Linked DNA regions of Homo sapiens: regions 1 and 2 are each linked to region 3. Evidence: fine-mapped expression QTL. A gene starts in region 3. Each other region holds a variant in brackets. All regions are shown on one strand. Distances are from middle to middle.

Region 1 (2,760 bases), 510 kb after region 3:
GTCTGACACATTTGCACTTAAAAATGCCCATCACAAGCCAGGCACAGTGGCTCATGCCTGCACTTTAGGAACCCGAGGCAGGAGGATCATTTGCACCCACGAGTTTGAGACTAGCCTGAGCAACATAGTGAGACCCCCATCTCTACAAAAAAATTAAGACAAAGAAAATTAGCCAGGCATGGTGGCGCATGTGTGTAGTCCTAGCTACTTTGGAAGCTGAGGCAAGAAGATCACTTGAGCCCAGGAGTTGGAGGCTGCAGTGAGCTACAATTGTGTCACTACACTCCAGCCTAGGAGGTTTTTAAGAGACTGTCTCTTAAAAAAGGCCAGGCGTGGCCAGGTGTGGTGGCTCACACCTGTAATCCCAGCACTTTGGGAGGCCAAGGTGGGTGGATCACTTGAGGTCAGGAGTTTGAGACCAGCCTGGCCAACATGGCAAAACCCCGGCTCTACTAAAAAAAAAAAAAAAAAAAAAAATTAGCCAGGCGTGCTGGCGCACTCCTGTAGTCCCAGCTACTCGGGAGGCTGAGGCAGGAGTATCACTTGAACCCAGGAGGCGGAAGTTGCAGTGAGACAAGATCATGCCACTGCATTCCAGCCTGGGCGACAGAGTGAGACTCTGTCTCAAAAAAAAAAAAAGGCCAGGCATGGTGGCTCATGCCTGTAATCCTAGCATTTTGGGAGGCCAAGACAGGAGGATCACTTGAGACTAGGAGTTCAAGCCCAGTCTGGGCAACTGAGACCCCATCTCTACATAAGTAATTTTTAAAAATGCAAATGACAGCCAGTGTGGTGTCTCACCCCTGTAATCCCAGGCCAAGGCTGAGGCAGGTGGATCACCTGTCAGGAGTGACCAGCCTGGCCAACATGGTGAAACCCTGTCTCAGAAAAAAAAAAAAAGCAGGGGCTTGGGACAATTTTGAAAAGCTAATATTTTTGCTGGGTGCAGTAGCTCTCGCCTGTAATCCCAGCACTTTGGGAGGCCGAGGTAGACGGATCATGAGGTCAGGAGATCGAGACCATCCTGGCTAACACGGTGAAACCCCGTCTCTCCTAAAAATACAAAAAAATTGGCCGGGCATGGTGGCAGGTGCCTATAGTCCCAGCTATTTGGGAAGCTGAGGCAGGAGAATGGCGTGAACCCAGGAGGTGGAGCTTGCAGTAAGCCAAGACCATGCCACTGCACTCCAGCCAGCGCAACCGAGCGAGATTCCGTCTCAAAAAAAAAAAAAAAGAAAGAAAGAAAAGCTAATATTTTAATATCCCCCTCCTTTCAAGAACTGCCCAAGGAACTGGTCTTACCAAGATTATAATGAACTAAAGATTCAAAAAATGGCCCTGAAGGACAATGAAATAAATAACTAAAGACTACTCAACTTCTCCCTTGCCTCACAAGTGCAGTATAAACTCAGTCGAACAGCAACAAGCTGCCAGC[G/A]TCCTCTGGGTTCAGCACCTGCTTTCCTAAAGGATCTCCTGACCAAGGAGCTGGTTTCTTTCAAAATTATTATTTTATTTATTATTTATTTATTTATTTATTTTTGGAGACTGAGTCTCACTCTGTCACCCAGGCTGGAGTGCAGTGGCGCGATCTCAGCTCACTGCAACCTCCGCTTTCCGGGTTCAGGTGATTCTCCTGCCTCAGCCTCCATGCACCACCACGCCCAGCTAATTTTTGTATTTTTAGTAGACATGGGATTTTGCCATTTTGGATAGGCTAATCTCTTAACTACTGACCTCAGGTGATCCGCCCGCCTCAGCCTCCCAAAGTGCTGGGATTACAGACATGAGCTACCGCACCTGGCCTCTTTCAAAATTATACATTCAGAGGTGACAAGATCCTGATAGAAGTGCACAAAGTAGGCTAGGCGCGTGACCAGGCACAGTGGCTCACGCCTGTAATCCCAGCACTTTGGGAGGCCAAGGCAGGCGGATCAGGAGGTCAGGAGTTCGAGATCAGCCTGAACAACATGGTGAAACCAGGTCTCTACTAAAAATACAGAAATTAGCCGGGCATGGTGGCACGCACCTGTAATCCCAGCTACTTGGGAGGCTGGGGCAGGAGACTTGCTTGAACCCAGGAGGCAGAGGTTGCAGTCAGCTGAGATTGTGCCATTGCACTCCAGCCTGGGTGAGAGAACGAGACTTCGTCTCAGAAAAAAAAAAAAAAAGTAGGCTTGGCGCGGTGGCTCATGCCTGTAATCCCAACAATTTGGGAGGCGGAGGCGGGTTGATCATGAGGTCAGGAGTTCGAGACCAGTCTGGCCAACATAGTGAAACCCCGTCTCTACTAAAAATACAAAAATTAGCCAGGTGTGGTGGCACGTGCCTGTAGTCCCAGCTACTCGGGAGGCTGAGGCAGGAAAATTGCTTGAACCAGGGAGTCAGAGGTTGCAGTGAGCCGAGATGGCACCACTGTACTCCAGCCTGGCAACGGAGCAAGACTCCATCTCAAAAAAACAAAACAAAACAAAACAAAACAAAAAGTGCACAAAGTATTGTCGCTTGACTTCTTAGTCATCTCATGCAGGCATATTCTATGACCACATACAAGAAGACTGTACAAAGAACCAAAGAGGCCACAGGTCAAGAGAAATGTGTTTTGGAGCAATGAGAACTCTTCCTAGACCTGCACACTCTACTGAGGATCTCCAACTTGCCCAAATTCACAGGAAAGGGGCTTGAAGGTGTTTTCACTGAGCAAGATAATTTTAGTACTGTTAAAAGTTAATTTGCGCCGGGCATAGTGGCTCACACTTGTAA
Region 2 (2,760 bases), 310 kb after region 3:
ACCAGTATGATTGGTTGTGGAAGGCGATCAGTCAGAGGCTGAAGTGAAGTTACAAAGTTACACCCTATGCAAATGTCTGATTGGTTGCGGGAGAGGACCAATCAGGGGTACTTTCTGTTTCTCATCTGCCATGCAAAAGGAGTAACTTCTGTCATTTTGTTACTTGGGCAGGGAAAGTTGGGGTTTTTCTTTTCTTTTCTTTTCTTTTCTTTTCTTTTCTTTTCTTTTTTTTTTTGAGACAAGAGTCTCGCTCTGTCGCCTGGGCTGGAGTGCAGTGGCGCAATCTCGGCTAACTGCAACCTTCGCCTCCTGGGCTCAAGCGATTCTTCTGCCTCAGCCTCCCAAGTAGCTGGGATTATAGGCGCCTGCTACCACGCCCGGCTAATTTTTGTATTTTTAGTAGAGATGGGGTTTCACCATGTTGGCCAGGCTGGTCTCAAACTCCTGACCTTAGGTAATCTGCCTGCCTCAGCTTCCCAAAGTGCTGGAATTACAGGTGTGAGCCACTGCACCCGGCCGGGATTTTCCTTTTGATTCAGTTCTAGGAAGTCAGTGCAAATTGACCTTAGGTTCCCTTCCTCCAGACCCTATTCTCCTGCCTCACTATGTTGAATAGCAGTGATGACAGTGGGCATCCTTGTCATGTTCCAGATCTTAGAGGAAAGGCTTTCGATTTTTCCCCGTTCAGTATGACACTAGCTGTAGGTCTGTCGTATATGGCTTTCATTATTTTGAGGTATGTTCCTTCTATCCCCAGTTTTTTGAGGGTTTTTTTTAAAATCATGAAGGGATGTTGAATTTTTTCAAATGCTTTTTCAGCATCAATTGAAATGAATCTTTCTTTTCTTGAATATAGGTATTTGCAGCTAGAAATTTCTCTGAGTACTGCTATCACTACATCCAATGTTTTGATATGCAGTGTTTTCATTTTAATTCCTCTCAAAGTACTTTAAAATTTCTTTTGTGATTTCTTCTCTGACCCATGAGTTATTTAGGAATGTGTTGTTCAATTTACACTTATTTGTGAATTCTGCAAATTTATTTCTGTTATTGATTTCTAATTTAATTATATTGTGTTCAGAAAACATTCATTGTATGATTTCAAGTCTTTTCAATTTTTTGAGGTTTGTTTTGTGGCCTAGTTTATGGCCTAATCTGGAGGGTGTTCCGTGTACATTTGAGAAGAGTGCGCATTCTGCTGTTGTTGGGTGGAGTGTTTTTTTTTTTTTGAGACAGAGTCTCGCTCTGTCGCCCAGGCTGGAGTGCAGTGGCGCGATCTCCACGCACTGCAAGCTCCGCCTCCCGCGTTTACGCCATTCTCCTGCCTCAGCCTCCCGAGTAGCTGGGACTACAGGCGCCTGCCACCACGCCTGGCTAA[A/ATTTTTTTT]TTTTTTTTTTTTTTGTATTTTTTAGTAGAGACGGGGTTTCAGGATGGTCTCGATCTCCTGACCTTGTGATCCGCCCGCCTCGGCCTCCCAAAGTGCTGGGATTACAGGCGTGAGCCACCGCGCCCGGCCGGGTGGAGTGTTTTTTAAATACCCGTTAGTTCTAATTAGTTTATAGTGTTGCTCAAGTTTTTTATTTTCTTGTTGATCTTCTGCCTAGTTGTTCTATCCATTATTATAAAGTATTGAAGTATCCAATTACTGTTGTTGAATTGTCTATTTCTCCCTTCAATTCCGTCAGTTTTGCATCATGAATTTTGGGGCTCTGTTCTTAGGTCTATGTATGTGTATATGTTTACAAATGTTATATCTTTCTAATGGATTGACCTCTTTATCAATCTTCAATCTTCATTTTCTTTTTCTTTCTTTCTTTCTTTTTTTTTTTGAGATGGAGTCTCACTCTGTCGCCCAGGCTGGAGTGCAGTTGCGCAATCTCAGCTCACAGCAACCTCCGCCTTCCAGGTTCAAGCGATTCTCCTGCCTCAGCCTCCCAAGTAGCTGTGACTACAGGCGCATGCCACCACGCCCGGCTCATTTTTTGTATTTTAGTAGAGACGGTGTTTCACCATGTTACCCAGGGTGGTCTCAATCTCCTGAGCTCAGGCGATCCAACAGCCTTTGGCCTCCTGAAGTGCTGGGATTACAGGCATGAGCCACCATGCCTGGCCAATCTTCATTTTATTTTTCCTTCTTTCTTTTTCTTTGTTTTTTTTTTTTGAGATGGAGTCTCACTCTGTCGCCAGGCTGGAGTGCAGTGGCGCAATCTCAGCTCACTGCAACCTCCGCCTCCCAGGTTCAAGTGATTCTCCTGCCTCAGCCTCCTGAGGAGATGGGACTACAGTCGTGTGCCACCACGCCCAGCTAATTTTTGTATTTTTAGTAGAGACGGGGTTTCACCATGTTGGCCAGGATGGTCTTGATCTCTTAACCTCGTGATCTGCCCGCCTCGGCCTCCTAAAGTGCTGGGATTACAGGTGTGAACCACCACGCCCCGCCAAATCTTCATTTTCAATAACATTTGTTTTGTGTTGTAAAGTCTGTTTGGTCTGGTATTAGTATAGCCATTACAGCTGTCTGTGGTTGCTGTTTGCATGATAATCTTTGCCCATTAAAAAAAATTTCAACCTATTTGTTTCTTTGAATCTAAAATATGTCCTTTAGATAGCCTTTTGTTGGATTCTTTAAAAAAAACAAATCTGATAATCTCTGCCTTTAGATTATTTAATCCATTTTCATTTAATTAACATTATTAATATGGTTGGATTTATATCTGGCATTTTGGTTTTTTACTATTTGTCTCATGCTTTTTTATTTATCTCTTCCA
Region 3 (2,760 bases):
CAGCCTCCCGAGTAGCTGGGACTACAGGCGCCCGCCACCACGCCCGGCTAATTTTTTGTATTTTTAGTAGAGACAGAGTTTCACCGTGTTAGCCAGGATGGTCTCGATCTCCTGACCTCGTGATCTGCCCGCCTCGGCCTCCCAAAGTGCTGGGATTACAAGTGTGAGCCACCGCGCCCGGCCTGAAGTTTCATCTCATACATTCATCCCTTCTCCAAGTCAAGGTGCCTGGGACCAGGCAATTTCAAGTTACTCGGGAGAAGAAAAAGTCTAGAAGAGACCTGGTGATGGTCCAAAAAGATCTGGGGTAAGAGCGGGGAGCAGAGGCAAAGATGAAGCCAGGAAGTAGGGCCCAGCCTTCAATTAAGCCTCTCCCTAATGTGGGCAAAGGAGGGTATCAAAGGCCCCAGTGTCCAGATTCAAACACAGGAGTTAAGATGGAATTAAGACTTTTGTTTCTGCAACTTAAAAAATAAGGTTATTTTTAAAACCCGGTTATTTTACATCCACTACCCCTTTGGGTACTGCAAAGTGGTTTCCATGACTGGTTTTTGACATCAACGATTGACAACTAGCCCCTCAACTGGAACATATACACAAAATATAACTGTTTCCTAGGCCAGATTCTGAAGAATGTCTGTCAACTCCCCAAATGCAGTCACAGAGCTGCCAAGAGGAGGCAAGAGCACTGTCATGAACTAAATCTAGGATCTTCAACAACTTTTTCAGAAACAAGAATCCCCTTAATTGTAGCTGTTAAACCATCAAAATTAGAATCACCTTAAATTTTCTTTTCTCCAGTTTTCCCCCTCTCCTGCAGTTCTCCAAGACTCTCTTTCAGGTGCCAAAATGGAGGAATGCATCAATACATTTTCCTTGCTGGTTAGAGGTTTTCTCTCGGGGCACAGAGCATGTGGTTTTGCATTTACCGGGGCATGGTTTGTTGCAAAGGCAGGGTTCTCATTCTCAGGAGCACATGGGACAGCAGCAAAAGGAGCAGCAGAAGAGCAGGCTGCCAGAGGATGTCTTCTGCAGAGGAGCCTGTGCACGGGCAGCGAGAAGGAGAGCGGCGCGGCGCTCAGTTCCAGCCTCTGCTGGCCTGTGCACTCCTGGGAATAACTAACTCCTTCAAAGGCCCGGTCAATGGCTGCAGTCAGTTCCTTTCTGCATCTTCTTAGTTTTTCAGACATTTCTCCTAAAAGCGACCATGTCTTTATGTAATGCATTGGAAATGCACAGGACAACACAATAATGTTACAAATGAGGCTGCAAACTACCCCTGAATGGCCACGATTTCCTGGAGCTTGGCCCTGGCTATAGCAGGACCCACAACCCTCGGGCTTTCCTCCTGGAGTAGGCGGTTCTCGGCTCTCGCGGAGGAACCCGCCATCTGCCAGAAGCCCCAAAGACGCCCCGCCCCACTTCCCACAGCTTCCTGGCCCGCCCCGCCGCTGCCTCCCGCCCCACCGCGGCTCCCAGGCCGCTGGCCCTACCGGCACCCCCCCTTTGGCGAGTCGGCAGCCACGTCCTTGTCCTCACCCGCAGCGCAGTGACGCCGACCCATCCAACGGTCATCGCATGCGCGTGCCCCGCGCAGGCCCCAAACCCCCACGGATTAGGTTGAAGGTCAGACAAAAAATCCCGGACCCATACGTCCGGTTCCTTAAGGCCTTGCCCACACGCAGCGGCTGGCCCCGCGGTGGGAGTGGGGACGGGGCTTTCGAATGGGGGCCCCGGGAAGAGTCTTGGCAGGGATGAGGAAAGAACCCGTTCTAGAAAGCATCTGGGTAACACCAAAATGTATTACTACCCTAAATCGCCATGAACTGGAGCCCTTTCCCGGCTAACTCCCACAAAGATTTCTGTTCTCAAGCCAACATGGAAACAACTAGACGGGACACAGCACCGGGCAGTTTTATGTACTGACTTCCTTTAAGCGTTATCTAATAAAAAGTGTGTTATCTAATAAAAGTTCCACACAGTATTTAACCGTCTTAATTCATCTAGGGTAGCAGGGGATATAACAGAACTGCTGGGTTCCACAGGAGGTTGAGGGGCCAGGATCCCCAACACTAGATATCTTCCTTAGCGGGGAGAAAGCTGGAAATTACAAGATGACTCAACGGAGAAATGGGCTTCAGTGGGTAACTTTCAGAAAATTATAAACCCATATCAGTGCACATAGCGAGGGAAAGGGGAGTTTACTTGAGGTTTGGGTTACTGTGAGCAGACTACTTGGGGTGACTAGTATTGGCATCAGAACCAGAAATCCAGGCGCTCAGGGCAGCCCTGCAGGTGGGGTGGGTCTCCAGGCTGCTCCATACTCAGCGCCTGTGTTCCTCTCCATTCTTCGGGATCCATCAGACATACTCCATTGAGTACCCCCATCCCACCCCCTTTTCAGCTTCACAGGTTTCACAGAAATTTCTCACCACCTGTTTAAAAATAAAAATAATTCAGCCTCTTGACATAGCTTCTTCTAGGTAAACGGTCTTCTTTTTTTTTTTTTGTTTCCTTCTGCTCATAAAAGAAGGGTATTTCCTTGTCTGGTTTTTAGACAGAACACTAGCAGTCTGCAGAGTGTCAAAGATGTTCTCCTGGGGGATTACACTGGCGCTACAGGGTGGCAGGATCGTGGAGTCAGCATTAGTTGGTGTCCATGCTGCAAGCCTCATCATCCCCAAAGCCCTGCTGAGAGCTGCTTGGTCGTGTCCCTCCATCAGAGGAACCAGAACTGCTAAGTGAAGGTGTCTTATAAAA

The links. PIP is the estimated chance that this variant, and not a neighbour inherited with it, causes the effect.
Region 1: its variant is fine-mapped to the expression of C3orf62 in whole blood (TOPMed, PIP above 0.99).
Region 2: its variant is fine-mapped to the expression of C3orf62 in whole blood (INTERVAL, PIP above 0.99).

Annotation. Positions count from the first base shown.
Region 1 is chr3:49,782,494-49,785,253 of GRCh38, forward strand. All of the region lies in intron 1 of IP6K1 (inositol hexakisphosphate kinase 1), which reads right to left. Among named protein-coding and RNA genes, the nearest start is that of IP6K1, 2.7 kb to the right of the region's middle. The variant G/A (reference allele first, on the strand shown) is at 1,436.
Region 2 is chr3:49,587,704-49,590,463 of GRCh38, forward strand. The region is part of intron 1 of BSN (bassoon presynaptic cytomatrix protein); the gene reads left to right. Among named protein-coding and RNA genes, the nearest start is that of BSN, 35 kb to the left of the region's middle. The variant A/ATTTTTTTT (reference allele first, on the strand shown) is at 1,379.
Region 3 is chr3:49,275,647-49,278,406 of GRCh38, forward strand. C3orf62 (chromosome 3 open reading frame 62) reads right to left here and starts at 1,586. Exons shown (of 3, transcript NM_198562.3): 1 at 781-1,586. The coding sequence starts at 1,226. USP4 (ubiquitin specific peptidase 4) reads right to left here. Exons shown (of 22, transcript NM_003363.4): 22 at 1,498-2,760. The coding sequence ends at 2,647. RefSeq lists an enhancer at 1,200-1,269 and a silencer at 1,410-1,609.